Homo sapiens: one gene and its partner. Each later gene encodes a partner of the first gene's protein in a complex. Each region holds a gene or a part of one and is shown in the gene's direction. Other genes may lie near its edges.

What was found.
Region 2: CTNNBL1 (region 1) and BCAS2 share a complex: the UniProt entries of both Homo sapiens proteins name them as parts of the PRP19-CDC5L splicing complex.

Annotation. Positions count from the first base shown.
Region 1 is NC_000020.11:37,730,524-37,740,341, forward strand, and holds part of CTNNBL1 (beta-catenin-like protein 1), read left to right. Parts: intron 1-2,355; coding exon 2,356-2,544; intron 2,545-6,854; coding exon 6,855-6,961; intron 6,962-9,818. UniProt on the Homo sapiens protein: Component of the PRP19-CDC5L complex that forms an integral part of the spliceosome and is required for activating pre-mRNA splicing.
Region 2 is NC_000001.11:114,568,798-114,578,615, reverse strand, and holds part of BCAS2 (pre-mRNA-splicing factor SPF27), read left to right. Parts: intron 1-1,857; coding exon 1,858-1,928; intron 1,929-2,864; coding exon 2,865-3,026; intron 3,027-7,865; coding exon 7,866-7,916; intron 7,917-8,543; coding exon 8,544-8,624; intron 8,625-9,818. UniProt on the Homo sapiens protein: Required for pre-mRNA splicing as component of the activated spliceosome. Component of the PRP19-CDC5L complex that forms an integral part of the spliceosome and is required for activating pre-mRNA splicing.

The DNA of each region.
Region 1 (9,818 bases):
TTGAACCAGGAGTAAGTTGAGCTGAATGGAGACACTGGGCTGTTTGGTGTCTGGGCAGTGCTGTGTCTCTTCAGCTCTGAAGCCCCTTTCACTACTGCTCTGTTTTATTCTAATTTAATGGAAAACAACAGTAAGACCTTCTTCATGGATTGCATTGTAAAAGGCAAAATGAGCTGGCTGCAGTGGCACACACCTGTAGTCTCAGCTATTCAGAGGGCTGAGGCAGGAGGATTGCTGGAGCCCAGAAGTTCAGGTCCAGCCTAGGCAACATAGTGAAACCTCATCTCTAAAAAGTAAACAACAACAAAAGGCAACATGAGGTCCTAACAGAGTATGGTAGAAAGGTCCTTGGACTAGGAGTCTGGAAGTGCCAGTTCTATTTTCAGTGGTGCACGAGTGGTTTTGTGATCTTATGTAATACTTGGCTTCTGGGCCTTTATTATTATTATTATATTTGATTTAAAAAACTTTTATTTTTAATTAGCAAATAATTGTATATATTTATAGGGTACAAGGTGATATTTTGATATATGTTTACAGTCTGGAATGATTACATCAGGCTAATTAACAAATCTATCACCTTTAATACTTTTTCTGTAGTGAAAATATTTAAAATCGTTTTATCAATTTTTAAATGTACAGTTCATTATTATTTATTATATTCAGCATTCAGTGCAATAGATCACTAAAGCTTATCTTCCTGTTTAACTGAAACTTTTTTTTTTTTTTGAGACGGAGTTTCACTCTTGTTGCCCAGGCTGGAGTGCAATGGCACGATCTCGGCTCACCGCAACCTCTGCCTCCCGGGTTCAAGCGATTCTCCTGCCTCAGCCTCCCAAGTAGCTGGGATTACAGGCATGCACCACCACGCCTGGCTAATTTTGTATTTTTAGCAGAGATGGGGTTTCTCCATGTTGATCAGGCTGGTCTTGAACTCCTGACCTCAGGTGATCTGCCCGCCTCAGCCTCCCAAAGTGCTGGGATTACAGGTGTGAGCCACCGCACCCGGCCTTACTGAAACTTATACTCTTTAGTCAACATTTCCCTCCGTCTCCCTTCCTCCCCAGCCTCTGGTGACGATCATTCTACTCTCTACTTCTATGAGTTCAGCTTTTTTAGATTCCACATACAAGTGAGATTACGAGGTATTTGTCTTTCTGTGCCTGGCTTATTTCACTTTGCTTAATGTCTTCCAGGTTTATCCAGGTTGTCTCAAATGACAGAATTTCCCCACTTTTTAGGGCTGAGTAGAATTCTATTGTGTATGTATACATTTTTTTTATCCATTCATCTAGTGACGGACACATAGGTTGCTTCCATATCTTAGCTATTGTGAATAATGCTACAATGAACAGGGCAGATATCTTCTCAGCATACTGAATTCAATTCTGTTGGTTACATACCCAAAAGTGGGATTGCTGGATCATATGATAATTCTATTTTTAATTTTTTGAGGAACCTCCATCTGTTTTCCATCATGGCTGTATTAATTTGTGTTTCCATCAACAGTGCACAGGGTTCTCTTTTCTCTACACCCTCAACAACACTTTATCTTCTGTCTTTTTCATGATAGCCATTCTGATAGGTGTGACATGATAACTCATTGTGATTTTTCTTTGCATTTCCCTGATGATTAGTGATGGTAAGCATTTTTTTCATATATCTTCTGGCCATTTGTACATCTTCTTTTGAGAAGTGTCTATTTAGGTCCTTTGCCCAGGCTCTGGGCCTTACTCAACTCTTCTGTAAAATAGAATTGGGAGTACAGTAGACATTCAGAAGTTACATATGTAATATTTTATGTTTGTACTATTTGTGAGTAACTGTAAAAAAGGCTTTGTAATCTTACGTAGATGTGAATTAAAACCAGGTGCTAAGACGCTGGCATTGGGAGTTATATCTTGACTAGTATGTGAGCCTAACCCAGTGTCCCCATCTTAAGATAGCTTTGTTGCTATTTCCGTATACATAGGAACTTTTGTGAAATGGCAAAACTGCGTATAAAAAAATTCCCACTGACTTTCATGGTATATTTATAGAATCATTAAGGATCTGAAAAATGACCACATAGAGCTTTACCCCATGTGGTGGGAGAAGTTGTATGCTGGATGCTTTTGAGTCAGAGAATTCTTGAAAGCTTTTAGGATATTTGCTGTCTATGCCTTGCAAAGTCTTTTTTTGTATTTTTTGTAGAGTCAGGGTTTTACCATGTTGCCTCAGGCTGGTCTCAAACTCCTGGGCTCAAGAGATCTGCCTGCCTTGGCCTCCCAAAGTGCTGGGATTATAGGCATGAGCCACCACGCCTGGCTTCTATGTTGTATCCAGCTCTAAAATCTTATGTTTCTTTTCTCTCAGCCCAATAGGGGCACAAAACGTCCCCGGGATGATGAAGAGGAGGAGCAGAAGATGCGTCGGAAACAAACTGGTACTCGAGAACGCGGCCGCTATCGGGAAGAAGAAATGACTGTGGTGGAGGAAGCGGATGATGACAAAAAAAGGCTGCTGCAGATTATTGACAGAGATGGGGAAGAGGAAGAGGAAGAGGTAACGTGGCAGCGCTGGGTGGGAGCTGAGATGGCTGGCCCTGTAAAACGTAATTTTGGGCCAAATACTAAGCTTGTCTGAGCTTCCCATCTTCATCTGTAAAATGGGGTTAAGAATTCATATTTCATCGCGTTAATGTGAAGGTTAAGTGGGCTAGTGCAGTTGGGAAAGCATCTTATGAGATGTAAAGAATGTGACAGAGTTTTAAAATTGTTCCATATTATGTACTGTAGGGGAGGGTCAGGGCAGGCTTCCTGGATCTTACTGAGGACACATAGAAGGCACTTGCATTATTATCTTTGAAAGAGGGGTCAAATTTCACCAAGTGGAAGGAAGGGCTTTTTGGGCAGAGAAAATGGTATTAGCAAAGCAACAAAAGTGGAGAAGTTTAATGGGTTCCACAGTATTAGGTATTTAGGTGTGACTGCAAAAGTACAGCTTAGGGAAGGAGATTCCTCGGGCCTTTCCCTTTGCTGTTCCTCAAGATGCGTTGGGGCCTTTCCACTCATTCCTGCCTCTGGACCTTTGGACTTCTGTGTCCTCTGTTGGAATGCTCGTCTCCCTTAATGCTTTGTATGACTGGTTTCTTCACATTCAGGTCTCAGTTCAGATGTTTCCTCCTCCAAGAAGTCTTTCCTATGTAGCCCTGCAAGCCATTCTCTCATTTCCTCATTACTGTATTTTGTATATTGTCTGCATAGCACGTATCATGATTTGAAATTCTAGTTGTTTATTTTGCTCATTGCTGTCCTCCTCTCAGCCTCCCATGAAAACAGAGACTGGCTCTGTTCTGTTCACAGCTCTATCTTTGGCACCCAGAGCAATACCTAGCTCTTGGTAGGCCCTTAATAAATATTTATTGAATGAATAAATGAATGAAGCTGGGAAGAGTAGAGGTAAAATATCAGTGATTAAAAACAAAATGACCTTACCTCTGTGTCTTTTTAAATCTTTAAGTGTTAACTTGTGTGTTATTTCACTCTGGCATTTTGTTCAATATGAATTATGGAAATAAGAGTCTTAAGAGCCAGCTGTTTTTTGGTTCTCTCAAAGACACGATGCTAAGTTTGGATTACAAAATGAGGTTGGCTGTGAATCTGAGAAGAAGAAAAAATGGATTCATATTCCAAAAAGGTCTTTACTGTGTTGTGACAATAGCTCTGTCTTTATTAGGATTTGTACTAGTGCTAATTTGGGGGTCTCCCGCTAAAAGATGATGGCACTTTAGAAATACGTGGTGGGAGACAGTCCTGAATTTTTTAATTTCCTCTCTGAGGGCAGCAGCCTTGCCAGGGCTTAGACAAACAGTGTGTGTAGCACATCCTCCCTCCCTTCCCTCCTCACCAGCTTCTGCTCAATCTGTTAGCCCTGCAGCAGCAGTTAATTGGCAGGTATAATTCCCATGTAGGGCAAGGCTGGTACTGGAGGATTAGGATAGTAGCTGTCATGGGTAAGTGGTTTCTAGCCTGGGAGACAGAAATGTAATGTGGGACCAACCCGTCTGTTAAGGGACAGGGAAAAAGAGATCGCTTTGTAAAAATGACACATGGAAGGCTACAAGTCCAGGAGTTATTTTCTCACTGCCACTGAAGTCCCATTTGATGAAAAACAAGTGATGTTTGCCCCTGTAAAGTCACGTGAACTTGTAAAATATTATTGTCCTTTTTGTGCTACATCATCAGCATTCATCTTTCTGAAATCTCCCTCTGGTTTCTGACGTTGAGCTATTGGAGATACTGCTGTGGCTGATGACTAAGACTGATAATTCAGTTTTCCCCCAGTGTTGGAGAGAAATTAAAGGAGGGAAGGCCAAACCCCGGAGAGGCTAGGACTTCGGAAATCCCATGAGAGCTGTGTTAACACTAATGTGGTTTTTCTCCAGAGTGGGGCAAGATGTTAGCTAAGAAAAGAAAAAGTAGCAGATATTGAGCTTACTTGAAAGTGATTTAACCCTTTCCTAGAAATGTTTTGATTATTTTAGTTAAATTCTAGTGGTATGTTGGGTACATTGTGCCTGTTGCTGATAATAACCATAACAGCTTGCATTCATGTAGTTTACAAAGTAGTTTTATGTACATCCTTTCTTTAGGTCATCTCTATGACCTTGAGAGATAACAGGTAACAATTTCATTCATCCCCTTCCTTCCCCTCCCCTCCCCTCCTCCCTTCCTCCATTCCTCAGATCTTCACTGAGTACCTGCTGTGTGCCAGACACTGGAGAGTCTACTTATGCCAGAGAACAAGTAGACATGGGCTAGCAATGGGAGTCTTTGCACTGGTTTGGGGTTGGAGAGATTATCTGGGCAGATCCTGCCAGATCCTTACGTAGATCATGTGAGGGATTTGGGATTTTATTCTAAGTGTGTAGTGGATGAGTTCAGGAAAGACTTAGGAGATAGAATTAGCTGGACTTGATGAAGCTTTGAGAAATATATTCAGCAAAGTAACATTGTCCCATGGCTAGTAAGTAGTGAAGCTAGGCTCTGAGTCTTGACTGAGCCAGGACTCTGACTTGTTTTTACTGTGTCAGGGAACCTGTCTTTAAGCTGTAGACCCTGGGGAGGAGGTAGGGGTTCAATAGAGAACCTTGGGATCTAGGAGTCATTGGTATAATCTAATAAATGTGTCATGCTGAAAATGAATTTATGGGTAGCTCCCACTTAAAACCCCATATGTGGAAATAGAAATTTAATAATAGAATAATAGCTAACATTTTTGAGTACTTATAAAATTATGGGATGATTCAGTGCTTTCCAAAAGGATCTATTTCAGGTTCTCTTAATAGCAGTTTCTTTATTGCTTTTAGGTGTGAGTTATGGTCAATGACTACAAAGCTGTGAAGCTTTGAGTTGGGATAGTATGAAGAGAAGCAGGGTGCATTGCAGCACATTAATTTAAACTGGAAGGAAACTGAAGATAAAACGTGTGAAATTTCAGTGTAGATTTTTTGGAGAAAAAATGATTTAGTTTTCAAATATTCATTTTATTTGCTTTCATAGGTATTATTCCAATGTATGAAGCCAGAAAATTCTGTACAGTCTACTAGCTTTTTTTTGCATTCTCTAGGCAAGGTTACTAAATTCTTGATGCTACTTCAGGGTTCAAAGTACCTGTCTGAATTCCTTCTCAGCATCTAGTAAGTACCAGGCAAAGTAATATATAAGAAATGCTAAGCAGTGACTATAGCTAATTAACAACCGTTCTTAGTTTACGCACTGTGGAAAAACAGGCAGTAGGTTGGATTTGGCTCATGGGCTGCAGTTTGCCAACTTCTGCTGTAGGAAAAGATTAAGGGTCACTGTCACTGACTCAGAGTTTGACCTTAAACAATTCTTTTAAACCTGTCAGTCTTATCTTACATGTATAGCAAAGGATGACAAGGTAAATGTATAATAATATTATCTAATATTGTTGCTTACTCTCTGCCATACAGTGTGCTCAAGAAATATTTGTTGAATGAGTGAGTCTTTAACAACTTTTCTTTTTTTTTTGAGACAGAGTCTCCCTCTCTCACCCAGGCCGGAGTGCAGCGGCACAGTCTCGGCTCACTGCAACCTCTGCTTCCCAGGTTCAAGTGATTCTCATGCCTCAACCTCCCGAGTAGCTGGGACTACAGGCATGTGCCTGTATTTTTAGTAGAGATGGGGTTTTGCCATGTTGGCCAGGCTGGTCTTGAACTCCTGACCTCAAGTGATCTGCCCACCTTGGACTCCTGAAGTGCTGAAGTGCCCAGTCTTTAACACCTCAAACCGAATTTTCTGTGTTACAGATAGTGGGCATTGTGTGAGACACCCAATGTGATATACCCGAAAAGAAGCATGTGATTACAGGCCCTTACTCCTCATTGTAATTAGAGAGATAAAGTGTGTACTGTGGCCGGGCACAGTGGCTCACACCTGTAATCCCAGCACTTTGGGAGGCCAAGGTGGGCAGATCACGAGGTCAGGAGATCGAGACCATCCTGGCTAACACGAAGAAACCCTGTCTCTACTAAAAATACAAAAAAATTAGCCGGGCATGGGGGCATGTGCCTGTAGTCCCAGCTACTCGGTAAGCTGAGGCAGGAGAATCGCTTGAACCTGAGAGGCAGAGATTGCAGTGAGCTGAGATCATACCACTGTACTCCAGCCTGGGCGACAGAGCAAGACTCCATCTCAAAAAACAAAACAAAACAAAAAAAGTGTACTGTACATTGAACCCAGAAAGGTCAATGGCAGAGTGAGGTGGGGTATAAGAGCCACAGGAAAGTAGTGACAATGAATGTGAAACCCCTGTGGACTGAAGTTTTTGCATTTGTCTCTTTGTACCAGGAGGAGCCATTGGATGAAAGCTCAGTGAAGAAAATGATCCTCACATTTGAAAAGAGATCATATAAAAACCAAGAATTGCGGATTAAGTTTCCAGACAATCCAGAGAAGTAAGGTTCTGTTCCACTGATACCATGTCTCCTCTGTGGCGTTTCGTTGGCTAATTTTGTTTTGATTTTGGTTTGTTTTGGCTTTTGTGATTTGGGCCAGGAATCCCAGGATGACCCCCATGTTTGGGAATTCACTAGAAGGACTCCCAGGACTCAAAGTCAGTGATACTCAGGGCTGTGGTTTATTACACAGGGCACACAACAGGATCAGCAAGAGAAAAAGACACATCAGGTGGCATCTGGAGAAATTCAGATACAGGCTTCCTATGTTTTCTCCTTCCCAGTGGGTGGGATTATACAAACATGCTTCTTTCTTCAGCAATGAAATGCATCAACATGTGTGCAGTGATGCTGTCCAGGGAAGCCCATTTCAGACTCTGAGTTCAGGGTTTTTATGGAGGACTGGTCATGTAGGCATTCTCTGCCTGTAATAACAATAACAACCAAAATTGTAGGCTCCTGGAAGGAAAGCAGCTGTTCAGTGCCCCGGGCTGACAAAGCAGCAACCTTATCACTTAGGGAACATTTCAAAAGCCAAATTCCTGGCTGCCAGCCTAGGGCCAGCCTTGTAAGCTAGCCCTTTTCAAGATCAGCCCCGCAGTTAACATATTAACTCTCCTGCATTATTCTTTTCAGTGCCCAAAGAAGACTGATCGTGCCTGCCGTTAGTGATAGCTTTACTGTGGAGATCATTTCAGAGGCTCTGAAGTTAGACAGATATTGGTGTGATACACACATCCCTTTGAATAAGTTACTTCCCCTTTCTTAGCCTTGGGTGTCTCATCTGTATAAGGAAATAATGCCTTCCTCACAGGGTTGTATGAAGATTAAAGGAGAATAATGTAAGTGTTTAGCTTAGTACCTGGCACATAGTAGGTGCCCATGAGATGATAGTTAACGTGAGTTTTACTACACTGGCACCTTGGTGCACTATGAAGTGCTATGTGAGGAATCTGGCATCTTTCAGTCAGTCTTGAATCCTAACCAAGGGGACTTTCACATTTATACGATTTTAATGTTCTAAACCTCTCTTTCTTTCCCTATCTTTGTCCCTCCCAGGACATACAATTTTAATGAATCTTAATATGCCCAAGGCCCCCAGGCAATTAACAATTGAGTAGTACAGGCTTTGCACTCAAGTTTTTAGGTTACTAGGGAGACTGACTATAAAGGCAAGGTAGAAGGAAACAGACACTTTAAAAGAGATATAATAGGAGAAGAAACAGTAAATACCAAGTTGGGGGCTATTGAGGGTGTCACAGAAAAGATAGTAGTTGAGCTGGGCCTTGAAGATTCATTTTTATTAGGCGGAAAAGAACACAGGAAGGCATGCCAGGCAATATGAGGAGCATGAACAAAGGCACAGAGGTGTCAGCGGGCACAGAGTCTTCATGGCAACCTAGAGAGGCCAGCGTGGTCAACTATGTTGTCCCTGTGCTGTGGATGAGAAGGCAGAGTGGGGAGAATGTGGTTACTGGGCCTAGGGCCACAGCCCTCTTTGATAGTAGGAGTAGCTATTAATAGATCAGGGCCCAGCTTATCCAGCATTAGAGTCCTATCAGGTTTTGTACTGATCTCCACCATACAGGAGCACTGTGTGTGTGTGTGTGTGTGTGTGTGTGTGTGTGTGTGTAATTACACAAGTAATGCATGAATAGATTGTCATTCTGAAAATACCAGTGGTACATGAGTAGAGTGAAAAATGAAAGTTTTCCTTCACTACTCTGATCCCTTTCCATTCCTCTGCCTAGAGGAACCTTGTGAACAGTTAATTATGCAAATGTATTTGTTTCTACTTAAATCATACTGTGCATATTCTGCACCTTGATTTTTTGGGTCATCTAACAGATCTGTCCAGGTGGTACATGCATATCTACCTTGTGTTTTTTTAATTGGTGCATAGTATTTCATGGTTTGGAAATACCATGACTTATTTAATTATTTTCTATTAATGGACATTTGATTATTTTAAAATCGGCTTTTATGAAAAATGCTATAGTGAACCTACTTGTACATGTGTCTTTGTGTGCATATATTTCCATAGGATAGATACCTAAATTTTGAATTCCCAGATTGAAGGGTATGTACATTTTAATGATAGCTACTGCCAATTTTCTCACTGTATTTTTAAATTCTCCCCCCAGCAGCAGCATCTCTTTTCTTGTGTTCTTGCCCACAATGCATGTGATCAGTCTTTAACATCTTTGCCATTTGTTTTGTTGTTATTTCTGTACTCAGTGGTTCCTGCATTAGACTCTGTTCCTTTTAGGAGATGGACGGTGTCTTGTTTGTCTCTAGTGCCTACCACAGTACTTGCCTTGCTGTAGGTGTTCAGTAAACATGAGAGAGCTCATGTAGTCCCTGTCGTCTTTATTACATCCCCATTGCTTGAACCTAAGGATACATTATGAGGAAGCTATGCTGCGGGTAATGATACTGGAAATTTAAGAAATTCAGTTTACTTCTTTGAACACCAGTATTTCCTTCGCCCGCTTGGTAGATACACGTCTCTCAATTTGGAGCAGAGTTTCTGCAGGTTATGTTCACCATCTACATCTTAGGTACCTTAGTGTTACAGTTCATTAACTGGGTTTAAGACAATGTGATTTTATTTAAAAAAATCGGTAGTGTTTTCCATTCAGACAAAATGTATATACTATTTTAGTTTTAAAATCTGAGCATATGAAAATTGAAATTGTGCATAAAGAACTTTTTTTTTTCATGTCGAAAAGCAGTTAGGAAACTACATTGTGTTTTAACCTTGAGTTCTTGAATTCTCACTGGTGCAGTGTCTTTCGTAATTCTCTAGATCAGCGAGGTGAAATTAAGATGAAAATTGCTAGAGTGTATTCGGATG
Region 2 (9,818 bases), on another chromosome or scaffold:
GTGGTTGAGGAAGGCCTCTCAAAGCTAAGATGAGACTACTCCATGAGCAGGGATTGCCCTTGCCGCTCCATGAACACTGGCTTAGTCTTTGGAGAGAGATGAGCTAAAATTCCAGATTTATCACTTACTGAGCATGTGAGTTAGTTAAGGGTTCCTCCTATGCTACATGGCTCAAGACTACTTATACTGCATTTTTATACTGCCTCGTGTTTAATTGGCTGTTTACTCCTTGTCTGTCACTGCAGAATTTTCTAGCTAGAATGCCCTGGTTTTTTTTTTTGCAGGAAACTAGGTAACTACATTTTCTTAAGATTGTGTGTAATTTAGCAGTAGCCCCTGCAAAATACTTTCTGCAGAAAGAAATGCTTAATACGAAATTTTTTGTTTTTTGTTTTTTGTTTTTTTGTTTTTTTGTTTTTTTGTTTTTGAGATGAAGTCTCACTCTGTTGCCAGGCTGGAGTGCAGTGGTGTGATCTCAGCTCACTGCAACCTCCACCTCCCAGGTTCAAGCAATTCTCCTGCCTCAGCCTCCGAGTATCTGGGATTACAGGCACGTGCCATCACGCCCAGCTAATTTTTGTATTTTTAGTAGAGATGAGGTTTCAACTTGTTGGCCAGGATGGTCTTGATCTCTTGACCTCGTGATCCACCCACCTCGGCCTCCCGAAGTGCTGGGATTACAGGCATGAGCCACCTCGCCCGGCCTAATAAAAACTTTTAAACATTCATGCAGGCTTCTGTAAGGCCTTTGATACTTATTTAGTCTAATTGTTAAGATAGTTGAAACCCTCAGAAAATTAAAATTACATGGAATAACCGAAGTATTACTACAAAGAAATATTTTAAGCAGTTCTTTATCCTCAGGGTAGGAAATGTGCAGAATGGAAATGGGTTAGGACGTTGGCCCTAAAGAGGAACAGCTATACTACATTTACTTGCGAACAGTAAAATTGCTAGAGAAGATAGTGAATATAAAGAAAAGACACTTTGGGAGGCTGAGGCAGGCCGATCACCTCAGGTCAGGAGTTCGAGACCAGCCTGGCCAACATGGTGAAACCCTGTCTCTACTAAAAATACAAAAATTAGCCAGGCATAGTGGCAGATGCCTGTCATCCCAGCTACTCGGGAGGCTGAGGCAAGAGAATCGCTTGAACCCGGGAGGCAGAGATGAGCCAAGATCGCGCCATTGCGCTCCAGCCTGGGGGACAAGAGCGAGACTTCGTCTCACAAAAAAAAAATAAATAAATAAATAAATTATTTCTTGGATTTCTGGAGGCTGGAAAGTGTACGGTTCACAGGCTGCATCTGGTGAGGGCCTTCTTGCTGGTGTGGACTTGGTGTACAGTCCTGAAGCAGCACAGGGCATTACATGGCAAGGTAGGGGCACACAAGAGAAAGACAAACTGGCTTTTATAACATACCCACTCTGGTGATAACTTATTAACCCATGAATGGATTGAGCCTTCATAACCCAATCACCTCTTAAAGACCCCACCTCTTAATACTATTACATTGGGGATTAAGTTTCTGTATGAATTTCAGAGGGGACAAACATTCAAACCATAGCACTGTCGAACTGATTCTGATATGCTTCTGGAATTAAGAACCACTGGTTTAGGATTAATCCTTTTCTCTGTGGGCTCCTTAATACATGCCACTTTTCCTGAATGTGAAGTGAGTGAGTGAGTGTGTGTGTGTGTGCTTCAGATTCTAGAGAGCATTTAACTCAGAGAAGAATTAGGGAAAGGTAAACAATTCATTATAATGGGTAGTGTAGCTTAAATCTGTTCTTTGGTGATTGTTAATTTTTAGTTGTCAACATGATCTTAGAAATCTTTTTTCTGATTTACACATCAGACTGACATAATGAGAAATGAATTTGAAAGACTGGCTGCTCGACAACCAATTGAATTGCTCAGTATGAAACGGTAAGAATATTAAAATGGAAATTAAAATTTAGTTTGTAGTAACTCAGTAATGAGCTGAGATTTGTGAAGAATGTATTTGCTGGCTAATATTGGCAGTGTTGGCCGGGTGTGGTGGCTCACACCTGTAATTCCAGCACTTTGGGAGGCCGAGGCTGGTGGATTGCTTGAATCCAGGAGTTTGAGACCAGCCTGGGCAACATGGCAAAACCCCATCTCTACCAAAAATAATTAATAATAATAATAATAATAATAATAAACGTACCTGGGTGTGGTGGCACGCACCCGTGGACCCAGCTACTTGGAAAGCTGAGGTAGGTGGATCGCTTGACACCCCCCAGGAGATGGAGGTTGCAGCAAGCCGAGATTGTGCCACTGCACTCCAGCGTTGGGGACAGAGGGAGACCCAGTCTTGAAAAAAAAACTATATATATATATATATAGAGAGAGAGAGAGAGAGAGAGAGAGGCAGTGTTGAAGGACTGACTGGGTAGTATGAAGAGAGAATAGAAGGAGTCATATCGCTTCTCATTTTTTTCTCTACCGGCGCATGGGTATGTTAGTGGATGGGTGGGTGTGAGTATTTTACAAAAATGGTAGCAAACTTTTTTGTCTACTGCTTTTTCCCCTTAATATATTACTGACATCTTAATATTATTAAATATTCTTCAGTAACATTTAATAGCTAATGTAACAATCTTTTATGTGAATGTAATGTTGCTTATTTAACCAGTTCACATTGAAGTGAACATAATGGTGCTAAATCATATTTGTAAATTGATTGTTAGCATATATCGGTTTCTTATTATTGCAAGGTTTACATCCTTAGTCTTCTGTAGTTTTTATACTATATGGAGACTCATGGGACATTCTACTGAGAAGAGATGTAAAGGCTTGGCAGTATAGATGGTTTTATTTTATTTTGTTGTTTAATTTCAGATATGAGCTTCCAGCCCCCTCCTCTGGTCAAAAAAATGACATTACTGCATGGCAAGAATGTGTAAACAATTCTATGGCCCAGTTAGAGCATCAAGCAGTTAGAATTGAGAATCTGGAACTAATGTCACAGCATGGATGTAATGCCTGGAAAGTATACAATGAGTAAGAACCTTTTTCTTCATCTTCTGTTTTTTTTGTTTTTTCTCTTTTCTTTCCATCTCACCCAAAGTTTTAGTACATTTTAAAAGTATGGGAGGTGCTGGGTGCAGTGGCTCATGCCAGTAATCCCAGCCCTTTGGGAGGCAGAGGTGGGTGGATTGCTTGAGGTCAGGAGTTCGAGACCAGCCTGGCCAACATGGTGAAACCCCATTTCTACAAAAAAAAAAAATACAAAAAATTAGCTGGGCATGGTAACGTGTGCCTGTAATCCCAGCTACTCTGGAGGCTGAGGCATGACAATTGCTTCAGCCTGGGAGGCAGAGGTTGTAGTGAGCCAAGATTTTGCCACTGCACTCCAGCCTAGGCGACAGAATGAGACTCTATCTCAAAAAAAAAAAAAAAAAAAGAAAAGAAAAAGAAAAGCCGGGCGCGGTGGTTTACACCTGTAATCCCAGCACTTCAGGAGGCCGAGGCGGGTGGATCACCTGAGGTCAGGAGTTTGAAACCAGCCTGGCCAACATGGTAAAACCGCATCTCTACTAAAAAAAAAAAAAAAGATTAGCCGGCCATGGTGGCGCTTCTGTAGTCACAGCTACTCAGGAGACTGGGGTAGGAGAATTGCTTGAACCTGGGAGGCAGAGGTTGCAATGAGCTGAGATTGTGCCACTGCACTCCAGCCACAGTGACAGAGCGAGACTCCATCTCAAAAAACAAACAAAAAAACCCCACAAAGTATGGGTAGGGGAAGTGTGATAAAAATAATATAGCTAGACTTTGTCTTGGGATTATGTTCTAGAACTGCAACCCATATGAAAGGCCACTATTTTGAAACCCACCTCAAAGTTCAAGAGTACTAACAGGACCTAAACCAAACTACGACATTTATTGTATAATATTGTAACAAAACTAGTTCTGAGGTCCCATTTGCAGAGCACCACTTGATAGAATGTTATCAAGCGTTGCTTAAACAGTTGATTCTCATTAGTCATGGGTTATGTTCTTTAAGTCCTATGAACACTGAATTAGCAAATACTGTACCATTTCTCCTAGGGGAAATATATACATATTCATGTGCACACATATACATATCTCTCAAATAGATTATAATCTTAAATCCTAAAATAAACTCATCCTGGTAGACTTCTTTATTTTATAAAAGAGAAAACAAAGTTGAGAAATGTAAAGTAACTTTCTTGAAACTGCCCCACTAACAGATCCCAGACTTGGAACTTGAACTTCATCCTCTGGTTATTTCTGTATGAGAGCTAAAACAAGAAGGCAAAGCACCTCCTTGTTCATCCTCAGCTGAAAATGTGCATGCTCAGCTGCTCAGATTTTTCACCACTGTGCACATGTCCATGAATGACTGCAAAACACTACAAGTAGTAATTTTGGGATTACAAATAAATTTGAGCAAGTATTTGTTGTCAAAACAAGCCACTGACATCCTGTTTCTGTTCCATGTAACTAGCTCTAGCTTTAGTATTTATTGTCTATCTAGAATTCAGATTCCTTGCTTGCAAAATTCCGTGGTTAGATTATCTGCATGGCCCCTTTGTGCCCTAAAATTTCCTGAGTGTCTATTCACAATTTAAGAGAAAAAGGCCACTGAACTTCATAACAGTATGTACAACTTTCGTTAGAGTATGTTTCCTGAAACATAGCTATATAAAATAAAGCAAAACCATGAAATGATAATACTGTTTCTCAAATCTTCAGAATTATGCATTTAATATTTGTAGCCACATAAAAATGATCCAGTGGACAAAATCCAGAATTTGGGAAACTCTACAAAGCCAACAACTAACTTTCTTTTATATATCTATATATTGCAAGGGGGGAAAAAGAAGAAAGAATGGGATTAGGGTGATTAAGAAATGTAAGCGACATCAATAAATCTGTTTCACAAAATGGAAAAATGTGATTCTTCTCAAGAAGCTTTATCTAATGGAAGAGATAATAAGTTTTATGCCAAGTAACCAATAGTCCATTTTTGGCAATATGGGGGCAAGTGCTACATTGTGTGCTGTGGTCTGTAAACTAAGCGTTAAGAGATGGGGCATTGCCAGGCGTGGTTCACGCTTATAATCCTAGTGCTTTGGGAGGCTGAGACAGGAGGATCACTTGAGGCCAAGAGTTTGAGACCAGCCTGGGCAACGTAAGTGAAACCCTGTCTCTATAGAAAACAATAAAAAAAATAGCCAGGTATGGTGGTACACACTTGTAGTCTGTTTCAAAAAAAAGAAAAAAAAAGATGGGGCATTAAGTTGAAGGTTGTTGAAGAAAGGTGAAATTGGGATGTTTAGAAGGAAACAAGGAAAACATTCCAGGAATGGAGAGCATAGATGCAGAGGAAAAAATATGACATTGAAAAGAACACTGCTGTCAACTTACCTGAAAACCTTTAATAATTCCCTATTACCTGCAAGGTAGAGGCCAAGTTTTTTTTTTTTTTTTTTTTTTTTTTTTTGGAGGTGGGGGCGGGGGGCGGGACAGAATCTTGCTCTGTCGCCCAAGCTAGATTGCAGTGCCACAATCTCAGCTCACTGCAACCCTCCCGGGTTCAAGCAACTCTTCTGCCTCAGCCTCCAGAGTAGGTGGGATTATAGACACCACCACGCCTGGCTAATTTTTGTATTTTTTGTGGAGACGGGGTTTCACCATGTTGGCCAGGCTGGTCTTGAGCTCCTGGCCTCAAGTGATCCTCCAGCATCAACCTCTCAAAGTGCTGGGATTACAGGTGTGAGCACCCGGCTGGGCCAGGCTTTTTAACGTGGTATTCAAGGGCTTTTCCTTACTACCTCAACTGTAGACTTTTAACTCAACCCAAACTAGTCCTTTCTCTGGTGATTATTGCAAATCCTGCCTCTGGGCCTTTACTTGCCCTTGTCTTTACCTGTTATACCCAAATTCAGCTTGTTTAGGGCTCAGCTCTAGTTTGCTTACTTGTCTTCTTCCCTGATTGAAATTCTGCTTCTAGTATTGTCTCCCTCTTCTGAGTAACTATACACAGAATTATTGTGCACATCACTTGTTTTCCATTTAATCACAAAGTGCTCTATAGTGCTTCACATTCCCCTAAGCATATTTTGTCTCCTCCAAATTCAGTGGACACTTCTCCAGAGGAGATGTACTATATTTTATCAAAGTATATTTAAGAGGAAGGGTGGGAGAAGGGAGAAGACAAACTAAACTTTCAGGGAGAGCCAATTCAAAGGAAAGCTCCCTGTTAGTGGTCAGAAGTCTGGAATAGAGCACTAAAATCAATAGTGCTCAGCATGGAGTGATTGTCGAAGTCAAGGAAAGGGGGATGACCTGAGGGAAAGCCTAGAGAGGCACAGCTGTTTAAAGACTGAATCTTGAGAGAATTGCAGCTAATGCAAGGAAACCAGTCAGTAGAGGTAGGAGAATAACTCAGGTGAGCAACAGAAAATTTGAGTCACAAAAGCCAGGAAACAATATTAGATTTAGAGCAAGAACACATTAGGGCCAGATGTGGTAAAAATGGACCCTGTAGGTGATTGATCCACTGCCTTAAGAGGAAATTGATATGATGTGGAATTATATCTTAATAAAGTTGTTATTTAAACTTAAAAAAGAGATTAAAATCTGTTTCATTACTTCTCTAAAATAATTATATGGTACTCTGTATTATTGAACTTTTCCCCTGTGCTAGTTACAGCTGACCTGGACTGGTATCTATTTTTTATTTTGCTATGCATATGTTACATGCAAATATGGACTGATATCTCATTCTACAACAGTTTTCTTTTTCTCACCTCTCTCTAGTTAGCAGTAGACAGGAGGAGAGAATGACAAGGTGAATGTATATGCAGAAATATAGAGATAAAAGGGGGTTGAGAAATAAAATAAGTGGGTACTCAGATATATTCCATCTTTTCTATGACAAGAAGTCATGACAGTTTAAGAAGTGACAAAAGGCCGTGTGGCTCACACATGTAATTCCAACACTTTGGAGGCTGAGGTGGGGAGATTGCTTGAGCCCAGGAGTTCAAGACCAGCCTGGACAACGTGGTGAAACCCTGTCTCTACAAAAAAGTAATGAAAATTAGCCGGGCATGGTGGCTTATGCCTGTAATCCAAGCTACTTTGAAGGCCTGAAGTGGGAGGATCAGTTGAGCCCAGGAGGTTGAGGCTGCCATGATTGCACCACTACACTCCAGCTTGAGCAACAGGAGAGCAAGACTCTGTCCCTCCCCTCCGCAAAAAAAAGCTGGGTACAGTGGCTCACGCCTGTTATCTCAGCACTTTGGGAGGCCGAGGCAGATGGATCACTTGAGGTCAGGAGTTCGAGACCAGCCTGGCCGACATAGTGAAACCCCATCTCTACTAAAAAAAAAAATACAAAAATTAGCAAGGCATGGCAGTACATGCCTGTAATCCCAGCTACTTGGGAGGCTGAGGCAGGAGAATCTCTTGAACCAGGAAGCAGAGGCTGCAGTGAGCTGAGATCTCACCACTTCGCTCCAGCCTGGGCAACAGAACGAGACTGTCTCAAAAAAAAAAAAGTAACCTAAGTACTCCAAGATCAGGCAGGGCATGGTAATCCCAGCAGTTTGGGAGGCCAAGGTGGGAGGATTGCAGCTCCTTGGGAGGCTGAGGCAGGAAGATTACTTGATCATGGGAGGTGAAGGCTGCAGTGAGCCATGATCACACCACTGCATTCCAGCATGAGTGACAGTCCTCGATTATGGAGTGTCCAACATAGTTCTTGGCACAGAGCTCCATAAATATGATTTTTGGCAGAAAAACTTGAAAAAGTTCACTTTTAATTGGTACTATTTTAATGTATTTTAATCTGATTTTCCTCTTTTCCTTCAGAAATCTAGTTCATATGATTGAACACGCACAGAAGGAACTTCAGAAGTTAAGGTAAATTGTTTTTTCCTATTACAGAATGAAGTTTAAGTGAACCTTTAATAAATAGAAAATAGGAGGAAAAAGAAAGCAAAGAGACTGCAGCCAGATGAAAGTAAACAATTGATCCACTCTCTTTGTTCAACATCTGACACTGGGTTTGCCCTACCTAAGTAGAGGAGAAATAGGCCTGAGGTCTGAAAACATCTCTGCCACTTGCAGCTTGCAAGTCTGCAAACATAGAAAGGCACTTTTAGAGTGGGAAAAGTTGCAGAATAACACATATAATCTGATTTTTAAAACCAATTTCTACACACACATATAGGAAAGCCTGGAAGGACACCCAGCAAAAACTCAACAGGAGTTATCAGGAAAAAGGAGACATGCATGAGAGGGGGGACTTGAGACTTGTAATCTGTGTGTGCTTGTGTGTGTGTGTGTGTGTGATTTCTCACAATGAGCATGTTTTATGAAACTTGTAATCAAAAAATAATTAGAAGAAAGGTAATTTCTACAGTTAGCCTATAACTGTACATAATATTGTTCTCATGGGATTAAGATATTCTCTTGTGTTATAGAGTTTTCTGTTGATTTAGGTCTTACATTAAAATGTAATTGGGTTGTATAAATAATTTTTTACAGAAAACATATTCAAGATTTAAACTGGCAGAGAAAGAACATGCAACTCACAGCTGGATCTAAATTGAGAGAAATGGAGTCAAAGTGAGTATCTATAATTCCATCATCTTTTAAATTGTTTAGCCCTTTCTAAGGTCGATTCAATAATATGATTCAAATAGCATTCAAATGGGATGCCACAGGTAACAAAGAAATGCTATTTTCTGAATTCACCCTTCCCCGTCTCTGCCTCTTTATAAGGTGTTAAAGAGAACTATAAACGAGAATTGAACCATTGGCGAAGGATCCTTTGCTAAATTGAACCATTGCTAAAGGATTCTGGTCTTAGAATACCCTGTTTTTAGTCTAGTATTTTTGGCCTTGAATAGAACTCTACCTTTATTCTCCTTTTAAACGGAAAAAAAAAAAAAATAGGCACGGTGGCACATGTCTGTAGTCCCAGCTACTCTGGAGGCTGAGGCAGGAGGATTGCTTAACCTGGAAGGTTGAAGCTGCAGTGAGTCATAATCACACCACTGCACTCCAGCCTGGGCAACAGAGCAAGACCTAGTCTTTAAAAAAAAAAAAAGGAAAAAAATTATTTTATAAAATCTTGTAGGGAGGGAGATTTCATACTTGGTAATTTTTTTGTACCTCAGGTTTATGCATTTTTAAAAATGTTCTTTTACATACACACATGTATACCTTTATACAATATAATCTTGAATATTTGTGTCATTTCTCTCTTCCTTTTTGCTTGGCCATTCCCTTTCTCCCTTCATTACTCAAGTCATTCTTGTTCCACCGTCTCCATGTACGTCTTACCAGTCTCGTTGGTACCCTTTCACGCTTTTTCCTCAATTTAATAAACTATTGCCTCTTTCCTTTTTGTTGATTAAATACTATCTTCATCACTCTTTCCTCTTTCTTCTGGTTTGCAAGTTCTCTCATCTGTTTCTAATTTGCTTTTTTATTAAACTTTTATTTTTAGATAATTATAGATTCACATGCAATTGTAAGAAATAATACAGAGAGCCAGGTGTGGTGACTCACATTGTAATCCTAGTGCCTTGGTAGGCCAAGGTAGGAGGATTGCTTGAAGCCAGGAGTTCAAGCCAGCCTGGGCAACATAACGAGACCCTGTCTCTACAAAAAAATGCTTTTAAATGAGCCAGGCATGATGGCATGCACCTGTAGTCTAAGCTCTTCAGGAGGCTGAGGTTGGAGGATTGCTTGAGCTCAGGAGTTCCAGGCTAGTGAGCTGTGATCACACCACTGCATTTCAGCCTAGGCAACAGA